Linked DNA regions of Homo sapiens. The protein of the gene in region 2 purifies or fractionates together with the protein of the main gene of each other region. This does not show direct contact. Each region holds a gene or a part of one and is shown on either strand. Other genes may lie near its edges.

Evidence for each region. The genes of interacting proteins can lie anywhere in the genome.
Region 1: the proteins of FRMD5 (region 2) and NRCAM purify together in Homo sapiens (affinity purification with mass spectrometry; 2 studies listed by BioGRID and IntAct, with this or other methods). This does not show direct contact.

The regions. Positions count from the first base shown.
Region 1 is NC_000007.14:108,453,425-108,461,025, forward strand, and holds the start of NRCAM (neuronal cell adhesion molecule isoform A precursor), read right to left. Parts: upstream 3,013-7,601; 5' UTR 2,819-3,012; intron 1-2,818. UniProt on the Homo sapiens protein: Cell adhesion protein that is required for normal responses to cell-cell contacts in brain and in the peripheral nervous system. Plays a role in neurite outgrowth in response to contactin binding.
Region 2 is NC_000015.10:44,185,267-44,192,284, reverse strand, and holds part of FRMD5 (FERM domain-containing protein 5), read left to right. Parts: intron 1-7,018. UniProt on the Homo sapiens protein: May be involved in regulation of cell migration. May regulate cell-matrix interactions via its interaction with ITGB5 and modifying ITGB5 cytoplasmic tail interactions such as with FERMT2 and TLN1.

The DNA of each region.
Region 1 (7,601 bases), on a different chromosome or scaffold from region 2:
ACAGGAAGTACTATTTCCAAAGATGCTTTGCTTTCTATTCACTGTTACCGTAGCATTAACAAAAATGATGTGGTGTAAGGGCAATGGCCTTCAGTCCAAAGACCTCATCACTACCCTGCATTACGAGGCTGAGCCCTATTGCAGTTGTTTTGAAACTCGAAGGATTAGTTAGATACAATGTTGCCTGAGTCCTCTAACAGCTCTAAAATTCCTGGATTATGTAAAATGTTTAGCAACTTTCCTGTAATAAAGTAAAAAGAAGGTTGAAACAAGACTATGAGTCAGTAGGATTATGAATGCAAAATAAATCAATTTTTCCAATTGATCAGTTAATTATAATTCTAAAAGCTATTCCAGAAATAGCTGATTCCACTTTGGTTCAAATTTTCCTTTTTTACTAGTTAACATGGAGCATCTTCATAAATGCCCCCACATGTTTCTATATATTTAGGAAATAGAATGATTTCCTAAGATTGGATGCTAGGGTCCTATTCAAACTCAACATCCAATTTGAGGAGTAACTCATTTGCAGTCAAAACCGTGTACAAAGGACATTCAGGGCTGGGGACCTTTTCTTTAAAGAAAAAAAAGTTTTATGAAACTTTATGATGTGCCAGGAACATCTATGTAATCACAGAGGCCCTGGTTACTAAGAACATGTTGTTCAGTGACTGTAATGGGTTGGATTGTGGGTTAACAGCCACGTACTTAAAAGCTAACAGGAATAAAAGAATATGTAAAGGAGTTACATGGGAATAAAAGGCTATTCCACAATACAGTTCTCTGAATCACAATATTGCCTGCTACTGTGAGTTCTGCAGAGCTCCGAATTAAATGGGCTTGTAATGTATCTCCCTGGTTTTGAACACTCAGTGGTTTAGGTTTCCCCTAAACTGATAAGCCTCCAAAAGGCCACAGTCTCAGTCTTGGATTGTAAAGCACAAGGACAAAAACAATCCCACTCCCCTACTTCCTAGCTGTGTGGCCTTGGGAAAGTTACTTGGTTTCTCTAAGCCTTCATTTCCTAATTTTTAAAATGGGGTTGCTGTGAGAATTAAATGAGATGATACATGTAACATGCGCAGCGCCCAGCACATCTAAAGCTCTCAAAACCGGTTGGCTATCGTTACCATTAAAGCAGCAAGTATCAGTTGCCTAACTCCATTTCAGTACTTCAGCAAGTACTGCCATTATTACAATATTTTAACAGCAGGGCATGGTTAGCACAATGCAGTCCCATAAAGCAGCCCAGCCTCCGAGGTTTGTATTCAGAGGTTACTGTGTTCCTTTCCAGGACCACCCCAGGGGGAGCTCCTGGTGCACAACCAATGCTTCCTGCCTCATTACACTTGGCTCCATCTCCTCCTGCAAAAGCCTGGGGCGAGGAAGAGCCCAGTCTCTTAGACCCGCACTTCTGAGCGTTAACCATCTGGGACTCGGAAAGGAAAAGAAAGCTTTCTTCTCAGGACAGTTCTGCGCCGGTGGTAGCCAAGGGCTGGAGCCCCTGATGCGAAGAAAAGGGAAGGAGAGAGGCGGGGTGCGAAAGAAACGCCACCGCTCGGCGCCCTCCCTCGGTGCCCGCGGCGCAGGGGCCACCCGCCAGCGTACGGGGGACGAAGATGTGGCCGCGGGCGCGGGCGGGAGGGGAGGCGATCCGGGGAAGGAAGCGGCCTGTTCGCCAGCCCCGGGGCCCGGGGAGCCCTCCAGCAGCGCTTGCGGCCCTGAGGACACCGCTTTGGGAGAAATGACGACTCCCTTGCTCACCCTACTGCGACACCCCGTCCCCCTCCGCACTCTAGCAGATGCGGGCCGGGAGTAGCTGAGCTGGCCAACCGCCTGGGACCAGGATGCGGCAGCGCCCACCCGCGCGGCGTGGAGGGGGCCGGGGGCGGCGCTCGGCGCAGATGGCGCTCGCTGCGAGATGGATGCTCCAGGGCGGGTAATCACTCCTGGCTCAACACAGCATCCCGGGCGGAGCGGATGCCAGATCCCACCGCTAAGAGCCTGGGCTGGGAAAGCAATCTTTCCAGGCAGCCCCCAGCCCGGTGCGCCGGCCCCGACAAGTCCCAGCCCTCGGAGGCAGGGCGGGGCGCAGGGACTCCCGGGACCCGCACCTGTAAGGCCGACAAAGCCCCCGCAAGCGCCCCACCCCTCTGTCCTCCGTGTCTCTCTCGTTCCGCCTCGATTCCCCGAGCCCTCTCCAGGCAGCGACTGGAGAAGCGAAGTCGGCCTCGCCCCCGAACTCCGTGGTCAGCACAGGTGTACGCACTTCCGAACAAAGCCCACGCCCAGACGTGTCCGCAGGGGCCCGAACAGGCACACGCCCGTGCGCTCCCGGCCCGGCCCCCGCGCTCCTCGCCCCGCCGGCACTGTGGCGTGACGCCCCGCGCCTCCGTGTCCAAGCCCGGGAAGCCGCCGTGCCGGGCCCGCAGGCTCTCCATGCCCAACTGCCCACGAGCAAGAGCTCTGGGCAGGGCTTCCCGGAAAGCGTGGGGTGCGGGCGCGGAGCAGAAGTTGGCCACAGGCTGGAGGGGGTGGTGGGTGCCGGCGCTGCTGGATTTCAGCTGTGCCTTCACCCAAGCGCAGGTCCCCCTGCTCCCTCTCGGCGCCCGCGGGAGTGTCGGGGGCCTGCAGGGGAGAAGGGAGTTGGAGATCTGCTTTGCCCCTCCTGCAGCGCTGCCAGCCCGGTGAGCGCTCGGCTGAACCCCGCGGCGGTGTCCAAGTGACAACGCAGCAGCCTCGCGCGTCCTCCTCCGCTCCAGCCGTCACCCCCGAGCAGGACCCAGTGTCACCGCCAGACGCGCAAGGAGCTACTTACGTTCTCGCGCCGCGCCCTCCGCTCAGCTCTGGCGCGACTGCCCAGGACCCTGGACCGCCGGTGTCCTCCGTTCTCGACGAAGCTATCCCCTCTGGCTGCTCCAGCCAGGCGGCCCCTGCGCCGTCCCCCGCGCCCGCGCGTCTGAGGCTCGGACTGCGGCGCGCGTCCGCCAGCGACCCTGGCGAAGCGAGGCTGGCCCCGCGCCGGCGCGCGCCCCCGCCGCTCCCGCCCTCTCCGCTCCCCCTCCCCGCGCCGTGCTTTTGCCCCTCCCGGCTCTCCTTAGCGTCCTCCCGTCCCCCTCCCCCGCACTCCCTGCGGGCGTCCTCCGCCTCCTCCCCTCCTGGCCAACCCCCTCTTGCCCTGCTGCTGCGACGGCAGCGAATGGGCTCCAGCCGCCGGCGCCTCGAGGGACTGGGTGGCCCCTCACCTGAGCGGCCGCCCCACCGCCAACCTCCGTCAGCCTGCGAGCGCGTGTGGCGGCGGGGGTGGGGGTGCGGGGACGGAGGGCGGGAGTGTTCCGGGGCTAGGATGGCTGGGATTTAGCTACAAAAGATGTTCCAGAAAATGGGTAGTTTTTGAATGCCACTCTCATGGGTTTAGCTTTCTGTGGGAGGTCTGTGGTCTTCTAGTTTTTTCTTTTTTAAAAAGCACTTTCTTCGAAATTCATCAGTTGGGGTGGTTGAGATTGGGTGAGTGGTTTTGGGGGTTTTGTTTTGTTTTTGCAACCGTTCTTTCCAAACACTCCCCGCCGCCCCCCACCACCGCAGAAAAAAGAGCTTTTAGCATAAGGCGGATGCTATCTATCCGCGGTAGAAACTGGGTCTTCTGGTCCCAAGGAATAGGGTTAGTTCGGATTTGCTTATTTACAAATGGGGGAGTATTATGGAGATTTTTTTTTTTTTTTTTTGGCAATGTAAATCGAGAATTAAGATTTTCCAACTGTATAGTATTTGAGTAAACACACTGCTTGCTGCATAGTTCAGGCTCCGAAGCGCACGTCTCCACTCTATCGTGGATGGTGTTCAGGATCCTTAGCCTGACCCTTGGGTCCTCCGTAATCTACTCCGGTCTGCACACAAATTACTTGTCTGCTGGGTATCACCCGACTTGACCACTTACAGCAGGCTCCAGCGCTTAGTGAGCTCAGCGGAGCCTTGATTCCTTCAGTTCTCTAATTCAGGAAAACATTTTCTGAGCTCCTCACCACCCCACCCCACCTCACCACCTCCTCCACCCCCAGCCTCCAAGGTGCTGGGGCAAGATTCAGGAATGAAAAAGAAACAGGTTCATCCTTCAAGGTCTTGACTACCCCAGTGGTCTGTTCTAACTTCAATTTGAACTTGCCCCGTCAGCTCACAGCATCTGCATGCAAGTGAGCAGCCTTCTTTTCCTTCTCCTTCTACTGCCATCCTCTCCTCCTTCTCCAGCCAAATGTGCTCTGGCCTCACAGAGCCTCCCTCGGTTCCTGAACCAGCATGATATCTGGCTGCTGGGTCATTGCACAAGTTGTTTCCACAGTCCCATCAGTGGTTCTTCTGACTCTAGTCCTTACCCAACTGCCATTCAGGTGGTACCTTGCACCTCTCAACTAATTGTCCAAATTTTCCTCTAAAATACCTTCCCCCCCGCAAAAAAAAAGATTCCATGATCCCCCTACTTGAAAGTCTGGGCTGGTGGGCTGGTTCTCTATTGCCTACAAAGTAAATTCCACATCTCCTGGTGTGCCTCTTTACAATCTGCTCCTAACTTATCTCTCCATTTTCCATAACTCTAAGCCTCTGCATGTGAGGTTCCTCCTAGCTAGAATATTGGTCCATCTCTTTTTCATTTGGCAAACTCTTGTTCATCCTTCAGAGCCTTACTTGGTTGTTACCTCCTCTGTAAGGACTATTATAATAGTGCTGGTCACCTTTTAATGATCTGTTTGCATGTCTGACTCCATAAAATTTCACTTCTTTGAGGACAATTTGTCTTATTTATTTTTGTGTAACCACATTTCTCATCAATACAAATGAAGCCACAGATAACCATAATCAACTCTCACTGCCCCATCATTTTGCCCTGTGTAAAGGACTTGAGGCCCCTCCGTTCCTTCCCCACTGCAGTAATTGCTGAGAATCCTGGGGTTGTCTTGCCTGTCCTTCCCATGTCCTTCTACTTCGTACTCTGGTTTTCCAAGATTGCCCCTCACCCCGGCCACTGAGAAACATTGATTTCTGGTCCACATTATTTTCCAGTGAATGCCACAGGGCAAACCTGTCAAGTGGGAAAATGACACCCTACTCTCTTCAGTTCTTGCCCTGGTTCTGTGTAGTAATTTATCCCCCGGGCACTGAAGCAACATTGCTTGTGTCTTCCTGTGTTACAATCTCATAAAGACCCTCTTTAAACAGCTCCTTGAACTTCTGCTTAGAATTGTTCTTTCTCTTCAGGCTCCAGTCCTGGTCTATGAAGCCAGGTTGAGGCAGACGATATTTGGTCCTGGTGAAGTCCAGGTTAGTCCTGATGCCTGGGAGACTACTTAGGCTATTGGGGGTTGCTGAAAGAATAAGGACATGAATAGAATCTCTCTCTTTTTTTTTTATGTGAGTGATGATTTCTCAGGTATAGTTTCCCTTACCTTTACAGGTAGAGTAACAATACTTAATACATAAGGTTATTGTAAGAAAGCACTGGACAGTATCTAGGACATAATAGGTGCTCAGCAAATTCTAGTTTAAGCAGTAATTATTTGATAAGATGTCTGTAATGTAAATACATGCTTGAATAAAAAGTACAAAGCCAGAAGAGAAAAAGCTCTGGAGAAGATAGGAACCACAGTGATAGTACAAAACAAAAACTAAAATTAAGTAATTTGGGGCTGGGTACGGTGGCTCATGCCTGTAATCTCAGCACTTTGGGAGGCTGAGGTGGGTGGATCACCTGAGGTCAGAGTTCGAGACCAGCCTGGCCAACATGGTGAAACCCTGTCTCTACTAAAAATACAAGAGTTAGCCACACGTGGTGGTGTGTGCCTGTAATCCCAGCTACTGGGGAGGCTGAGGCAGGAGAATCACTTGAACCCAGGAGGCAGAGGTTGCAGTGAACCGAGATCACACCACTACACTTCAGCCTGGGCGGCAGAGTGAGACTCCGTCTCAAAAAACAGAAAGTAATTTTGATACTACATAATAATTGTAATAATATAAAATTATTATATAGTTCTGATTTCCAGCTTATTACTTCAACTGCACTGCAGCTCTACATTGCTGGGGATTCATCTCCTGAGGGAATGAGCAACAGGAAGAACAAACTGAGGCTTCAAGAGGAGCTGAAATGAAGGGAGTATGGGAGGTGGGGATAGAAAAATGTTCTACAATTAGAAAGATGGCGGTGTGGGCAAATAGACTTTCTAATGCAGTCTGTTTGATCTGCTTGGTGATGCATGAGGCAGTCTGATTTGGCTGCACTTTGCTGGTGATACCCACAACTTGCCTCCTTACCCTAACTGCTGCTATCCCTTTCCCATCCCTAAGCCTTATCCTCTCCCTATTACCAAGCCTCACTCCATCTTCAAACCCAGCTGAGGACTGGGAATAAGGTCTGTGTCCTCATCATGTGATAATAATAGAATCATTATTATTATTTTCATTTATTAACTCATTTATTCTGACAAAAATTCCATTCAGTAGGCACTATTATCATTCCCCTTTTAGAAAATAAGGCAAAAAAAAGTTAAGTAACTTGCAGAGGTCACACAGTTTATCTGCAGAGATGGGATTCAAGCCCCGCATTATAACTCCAAAGTTAAGTCTTAACCAGTCATTGTGCCATGCTGTCTATCAATGACAACACACCAAAAGTTTCATTGTTTTCATAGACACATCAGAATGTCACTGTGTTAAAACAGCTACATCAGAAAGTCATGGAGCCCCCCAGTGGTACCTGCAGTGAATATGTTTTAGCCTTTCTCTTTTCCTCTACTTCTGCAGTCCTGTCTCTTTTTCTCAGAGTTCTCCCTCCCCTCTTTTCCTCTTCCACTTTTTTTTTTTTTAACGCCTTGCCTTATTTTCCATCTCAATTTTCTTAATCCACATCCATGCTGCAGGCCTCCCAGGGGAGGCAGTACCATTGGTCCTGTCCTCAAATCTAATGTTAAATTCAGCAAAACCTAACATGGACCCAGCAATGCTAGTAATGAGCCTGTTGCCTTGCTATAAAATGAAAGAATTGGACTAAGTGAGCACAGAAATTCTTTTTCAGCTGTGTCATTTTTTTTGATTCTGGTGGTAACCAAGAGCATTTTTTTCGGCTCCTCTAGTAAAACACAGATAAAACCTGGCTGAATTCTGGTAAGAATGACTGAAGCACTAAAAAAAAAAAAAAAGAAAGAAAAGAAAAAAAAAGTTCCTGTCATAATATAACAGGTTTTTTGCTAGAAGAATGGCTTATACCAGTGTCATCATTATCTTAATATAATAGGTTAGGCTGGGCAACGTGCATTAGATTTCTGACAGGCATGTGAGAAATGTAGGTATTTTTGTTTGTTTGTTTTTTGAGACAGCGTCCCACTCTGTCCCCCAGGCTTAAGTGCAGTGGCGTGATCTCGGCTCACTGCAACCTCCGCCTTCTGGGTTTAAGTGATCCTCCTGTCTCAGCTTCCCGAGTAGCTGCAAATGTAGTAATTTTTAAAGCCTTTCTGTTTGAAAGGGTATTATAACCCAATATTGTCCAAAAGCATAGTTGTTATAATGGGAGGCTTTCTAAACTGGTTCCCAGTGACATTCTCCTCCTGGTATTCTTC
Region 2 (7,018 bases):
CAGTTATAAGAAATTCTGTCAAAGTATTTGTCTATCCTTTCATAATGCAGCATTTATTCCGATCTGGCATTTAGGATGTAATTATTAAGGTAATGAAAATGCCTTATATCTTTTCAATGAAGGTTGCCACAGTTACCAGACTATTCTTTCACTCTTTCTGATATGCAAATGTATTTGTAGACCATGAGAAATGAAAGTATACATAGGAGGGTTGTAGTATAATTGCTCCCCTGTGAAGAACATTGTTAACAGCTCCCTGCCAGTTTTGAAGGTCATTTCCTCGTAAATGCAGATCTGGTCTACTCATCTGTTTTTCATTCATCTGTTTCATTTATGGAGATACATATATATATATATATATAATATATATATATATATATATATATATATATTTACCACATTTATCAGCTTACTTTGTTATTTGGAGAAAATAGGGAAAATTAAAAAATGAAAAGATAACTAATATCTTTGAACTCAGTATACTGAAGGAGTCATTTACGTGCTTAGGCATGTAATATCCTAAGGAATTTTTATGTTTTTAAGAAACGGGATCTTGCTATGTTGCCTAGGCTGGACTTGAATTCCTGGGCTGAAGTGATTCTCTCGCCTCAGCCTCCCAAGTAGTTGGGACTACAGAAGTGCACCACCATGCCCTGCTTATAAGGAATAGATTATTTTATTATTATTATTATTATTTTTGAGGTGGAGTCTCGCTCTGTTGCCCAGGCTGAAGTGCAATGGCGCAATCTAAGCTCACTGCAACCTCTGCCTCCTGGGTTCAAGCGATTCTCCTGCCTCAACCTCCCGAGTAGCTGGTATTACAGGCACCCACCACCATGCCTGGCCAATTTTTGTATTTTTAGTAGAGACGAGGTTTCACCATGTTGGCCAGGATGGTCTCTATCTCTTGACCTCGTGATCCACCCGCCTCGCCTCCCAAAGTGCTGGGATTACAGGCATGAGCCACTGCACCCGGCCAGGAATAGATTTTGAACTATCTTTCAGCTTATAATAGTTTATAAATTATGAGAATATATATTGCAACATTTCTAATAGAAATATGTGTTGAAAAAATACCTATTTTCAAGTCAGAAATGTTAATCAGTTTTTTGTGATTACTGAAAGGTGAGCTACTCTAGAAATGAATTTGATTTTACTGAGAGACATATTAAAATAATGGATTAAGCAGCCAGGTTAAATTGTGCAGTTAAATAAGATACTACCATAAATAGAATGTGTGTGCAGGGGCATTTCCATAGTATAACCAATATTTGGATTTGATTGTGGCTCAACCACTTAGTAGCTGTGGTAGCTAGGGTGAGAGAGGGAGGGAGAGAACAAATGTATTGAGCCCTGTGCTTGCCAGGCACTCTAGAGTTTATAATAGATTAAGAGAAAGCTATAAATCATAAACCCTAAGAATTATCACATCTAGTTCGATGCCTTACATAGTTTTAATTCAATAAATATTTGTTCTAATTTGTTTGTGCTACATGATTGCTATGTTAACTTCACTTCAAATTTTCTTATTCCTGAAAACAATAAACAGTTCTAACACCTGTATAACTCTTTATAGTTTTAATCCATTCCATTACAAACCGTTTTGCTGTGTGACCCCTCTCCCGGGTGAGAAGTACAGTATGTTAGTGTGGTATTTATGAGGTCTTTGAGGTATTTATGAAGTCAATTTCTGCAATTATCCTTTGTTGAATTAGTGGAGTGCCAGTTGGTATAGCTCCTATGACTTTTTGGTTTGTCTCTTAGGATTTCAAAACTTTCAGGTCCCCCTGCCTCCATCTCTGCAAGTTTAGAGGGCTTAGATCAAATGAATACTGTGTGATGCAGTACTTCATGGAGTGTTAGAGTTCTGCCAGAATTAGGATTTTGGATGTAGGGATCACCATAGCTACAGAAGTTTCCTTCACACTTTTCCCCTTAGTACCCCATAAAAGAGGAGACAGACCTCCTCACAGCCTCATTTTCTCACCTCTTGCTCCAAGAGGAAGTGGACCATGCTTCCCATCCTGTTTCTAGTTATATCTATTTTAAGTTGAATTCACCTTTGATAGCCTCATCTATAACATCCTGTCTGACTCTGCGAGTTGCTCGTCTCTCAAATGTGTCTAGTTAAGGCTTGTACTAAAGAAGTGAATATCATGGAGGATTGGCAGCAACCTTATAGCTTCTGTTTCTCACTTCTGTAGTGCCCAGGAAGGACAGTGCTGCTTTCCTGGAGGCCAGGTGATGGTTGTTGCCCCTGTTTTCTGGTCTTGACTTTTTGGGGCTTAGGCCAACCACCTCAGTGGTTTTCTTATGCAGCTGGGAAATTTGAAGGGTACTAAAGCATCTCCATTCCCATGTTGCAGGGAGAATGGTGTTTCCCCTAAGACAGCAAATCGCCAATTCATATGTCTATCCTAGCAAATGAAGCAGGTCTTCCATTCCTTTTTAAGACCCTAGACCCTGGTGACCAATAAAACTCTTTGGACTTTTGGCTAGACATGGTGGCTCATGCCTGTAATCCTGGCAATTTGGTAGGCTGAGGTGGGAGGATCACTTGAGATCAGGAGTTTGAGACCAGCCTGGTCAACATGGTAAAACCCCCGTCTCTACTAAAAATACAAAAATTAGCCAGGTGTGTGCTGTTACATGCCTGTAATCCCAGCTGCTCGGGAGGCTGAGGCAGGAGAATTGCTTGAACCCGGGAGGTGGAGCTTGCAGTGAGCCGAGATAGCACCATTGCACTCCAGCCTGGGTGGCAGAGCAAGACTCTGTCCCAAAAAAAAAAAAAAAAGTCTTGACTTTTACAAGCACTGTAAATACAGGTAGAGCCAAAGATAAACCAGGGGGAACAGAGGGTCTAAGTTCACATACTCCCAACCTCCAGTTTCTCCATCAGGCTAAAACTGTCTCAGAGAAATTTAAATTATGGACCTTTTGCCTCCCAAGGTCAACATGTGATCTTCATTATTGTTGTCAACATTTTGACCAAGATAGGCCCCTATATTGGTCTTTCAACAGTTGTAATTGTTGTATTATTTCTAAAGATTGTGTTTTACTTTTGTGGTCTTACCAACTTTCTAGTATCATATCCTAGATTTGGGAGGCAGGAACTTGTAAAGACTCTTAGGTTCAAATTCCCCAGGCTTTTGCCTGCTACCGTTAGACTAAACACAAACTTGTGTGAATCAAGTTCTCTAAAGAGATCCTTCCGTGCCATGCTCATGAAGGCAAAATAATTGGGCCACATGCTTGGCAACCACTGAGTTTGTGTACAATAGCTCCATTCACTTGTCTACAGAAAACACCCCTTTGACAGTGATTATAGCTTTCAACCCCCCACCCTTCCACTTCTGACTCCCCGAATTACCATGACCTCATCTGCTGCTTCGTATTTAGAGGTGCTCTGGACCACTCCAGAAGTGCCTAGAACTCATTCCTGTGTGTTAAAGATCAGTTCAAAGCCTCAGACAACCACTGCCCACCAAGAAAAACCATTCAAAATCAGGACCAAATCTAGCTATTCTTATGCCTCATTTGAGTCATTTTACTATGTCACAATTCAGGGGCCCTTTTCCTTCAGTAGAAATTGTGAGGCCTCTCAAAGCATGGAAAATGAAATAAGGGATTGGATAAAGCAGTGGTTCTCAAAGTATGGCCCCTAGATAGGCATTATCCATATCACCTGGGTACTTGTTAGAAATGCAAATTCTTGACCCCATCCCAGACCTAGTGAATCAAAAACTCCGGGGATGGAGTTCAGCAGTCTGTTTAACAAGTCTTCCAGGTGATTCTTAGGCTTGCTGAGGTTTGAGAATCACTACTACTGGGTTACAGAGATATTTAGTAGGTAAAATGGACAAGTGTTGATTGACTGGATGTAAAATGTGAGGGAGAGGGAGAGGTGAAGAAGGAATCTCACATTTCTAACTTTTGATTTATTCCTGAATTGTCTTAATAGATTCTCTTCCCTTGCAAGGTAAATGCTAGGTTGTCTACAGATATGCATACCTATTTTCAAGTGGGTAGGAGTCTAAAGATTCTGCAGTGCGTCATTATACCAGTTTGATGCTGTTGTATTTATTGGTTAGTATTTTTTGTCTCTCCTGACCTAAAAACAGTAGATTATTGTATATTTGTATATTTTTTAAAAATAAATTTTGTTCACAACTTGACGCACTAGGGGAAAGGAAAAGTCAAGGCCCCTGTTGTCGAAGGGCTTACAACTTAGGGATTGCAAACACGTAAATAACAAACTATAAAGCATCATGGAATTTGGAGCTAAGACAAGGGGATATGTTGTGGCAATGCAGATTTGGGTTGGAGTTTGGGAAATGGGGAGGGATTCCAAAATTAATAATTGTTTTTCAAAGGAGATGAAATTTGAACCAGGTTATGAAAAATTGCCAAAAGCAGGGCCAGGCACTGTGGTTTATGCCTATAATCTCAGTGCTTTGGGGGACCAAGGCAGGAGGATCCCTCGAGGCCAGGAGTTTGAGTCTATCCTGGGCAACATAGCAAGACCTTGTCTCTACAAAAAATTTAAAATTTAGGCTGGCATGTTGGTGTATACCTGTAGTCCTAGCTACATGAGGGGGCTGAGGTGGGAGGATTTTGTAAGCCCAGGAGTTTGAGGTTACAATGAGCTATGATTGTGCCATTGTACTCCAGCCTGGGCTACAGATGGAAACGCTGTCTCCTAAAAAAAAAAAAAAAATTGCCAAAAGCAAAAATGGCATGGGGATGCGTAAAGAGCATTAGAGGCTGAGTTAACAGCAGACTACTTCTAAGTGGAAAAGTTAAAAATGTAAAGTCTTTAGTTTTTTTCTTTAGTATGTTTATCTGACTTACTCTGGTATAGTTGAGTCAAACAACAGAAATCTGCTTGGGGAAAATTCCTGTCAGTAAATTTCAATCATACTTGACATGCAGAGAGGAATCAATCTAAACTAATAATGCATAAAGCTAGTGTTGAATTAAATCTAATTCTAAAATTGTATAACACAAATTAAGATTCTTCACAAAGCAATGGCATTATGTCAAGAAAAGGTGGATTCAGATTTCAATCTTCATTCTGTGGCTGCAGTAACTACATATGAATTTTATTTCCAAGAGGACTCTTCTCTTCAGGATCAGTTTAATCATCTGACAAAAAAGAGGGTATCAAATTGTAACATTTAGCCGATGTTTGAAAATCCTTTGATGAATACAGTGCAGCCCCAATTGTGCATTAACAGTTAAGAAATGTGACCCATGGAGTCCTAAAAGGCACATTTCAGCATCTCTGTTCCCAAACCTAAGTGGCCACCAAAAATAGCTTCTCTTGAGGACCGAGGATTGCGTCTCTGAATTCCCCAGTGAACCCCTGACAGCTTCGAAGTTCCCAGCCTTATACAGGGTGTACTTTTAGCACTCAACACAATGCCAGGCTAGAGCTTTGGGGATGGGAACCTCCAAGAAAGCACTGTTCGGCATTTGGGCAATCAGTGTTCGGCAGAATGCCAATGCTAATAGGTTATTTTGCTCTGGAAAAGGAGAAAAAGAAGGGATAGTCTAAAGACTGATGAATAGGGGATGACTGACAATACGGACACTCCACTTTATTGGAGAGATTAAGGGGGCTTGCTGTGAAGTGGTATTGTGGGAGCCAGAAAAATTAGCAAAGGCCCACAGGCCCAAGACCTGAAATAAATAGTGGTACATCAAACCCGCATGCCCTAGGGCACACTCAAATGTCTGGCCACTTTCAGTGAACTTGTAGCAGGAAAAAGCCAAATCATTAGGAACCCTCATAGTCTGGTACTCCATCCAGGCACTCCTTAGTCAGGCAAATTATCCTTCACCTCCAGACAGGTGCAGAGCCTTTTTTCTCTACACCCTGACTTAACCCAAGGGCCTGTAGTCTGGGCCTCAGTCTAATTTTGAGGATACTGAGTGGAAAAGTTGGCTTCAGGATTTCCAAAGGATTCCAAATACTCTAGGCAGGAGGTGCCACTAAGATTCTTGTTTTGTTAGACTTGAACCAAGCAGGTAAGAACATTGATCATAACACAAGAAAGGCCGGGTGCGGTGGCTCACGCCTGTAATCCCAGCACTTTGGGAGGCCGAGGTGGGTGGATCCCCTGAGGTCTGGAGTTTGAGACCAGCCTGACCAACGTGGAGAAACCCTGTCTCTACTAAAAATAAAAAATTAGCTGGGTGTGGTGACGCATGCCTGTAATCCCAGCTACTCTGGAGGCTGAGGCAGGAGAATCGTTTGAACTGGGGAGGCGAAGGTTGTGGGTGAGCCGAAATCACGCCATTGCACTCCAGCCTGGGCAACAAGAGAGAAACTCTGTCTCAAAACAAACAAACAGACAAAAAACACAAGAAAGCAGAATTAGTGAATTCACATAAGGATCTCATGTACTTCCAGAGGTAATTTAAGATGGAGAAAGCATCTAGCCTGCCCTCTTTTAGATTTTTTGCCTCTAGAGCATTTTTTTTTTTTTAAGATAAGAGTCTCACTCTGTCGCCCAAGCTGGAGTTCAGTGGTATGATGTCGGCTCATTGCAACCTCTGCCTCCTGGGTTCAAGCAATTCTTGCGTCTCAGCCTCCTGAGTAGCTGGGATTACAGGCATGCACCACCACGCTCAGCTAATTTTTGTATTTTTAGTACAGAAGGGGTTTCACCATGTTGGCTAGGCTGGTTTCTAAACTCCTGACCTTAAGCAATCCACCCGCCTCAGCCTCCCAAAGTGCTAGGATTACAAGTGTGAGCCACCATGCCTGGCCTTGCCTCTAGAAGACTCTAAAGGCCCCAAAGTTATTATGGAATTGGAGGTTTGTAGGTCAGAAGGACTCCATGGATTGGCAATGATGCCTGGAATGTTATAAGGCATATTAAGCCTGCAATTTCTCAGTATACACTTATCTGTCTAACAGAATAGCCCCTCAGCTCTTCGGGAGGCCATTTGGAAGTTATACTATCAAAAGAAATTTGGCTGTTGAGCAGTGAAACTCTGATAAAAACATAAG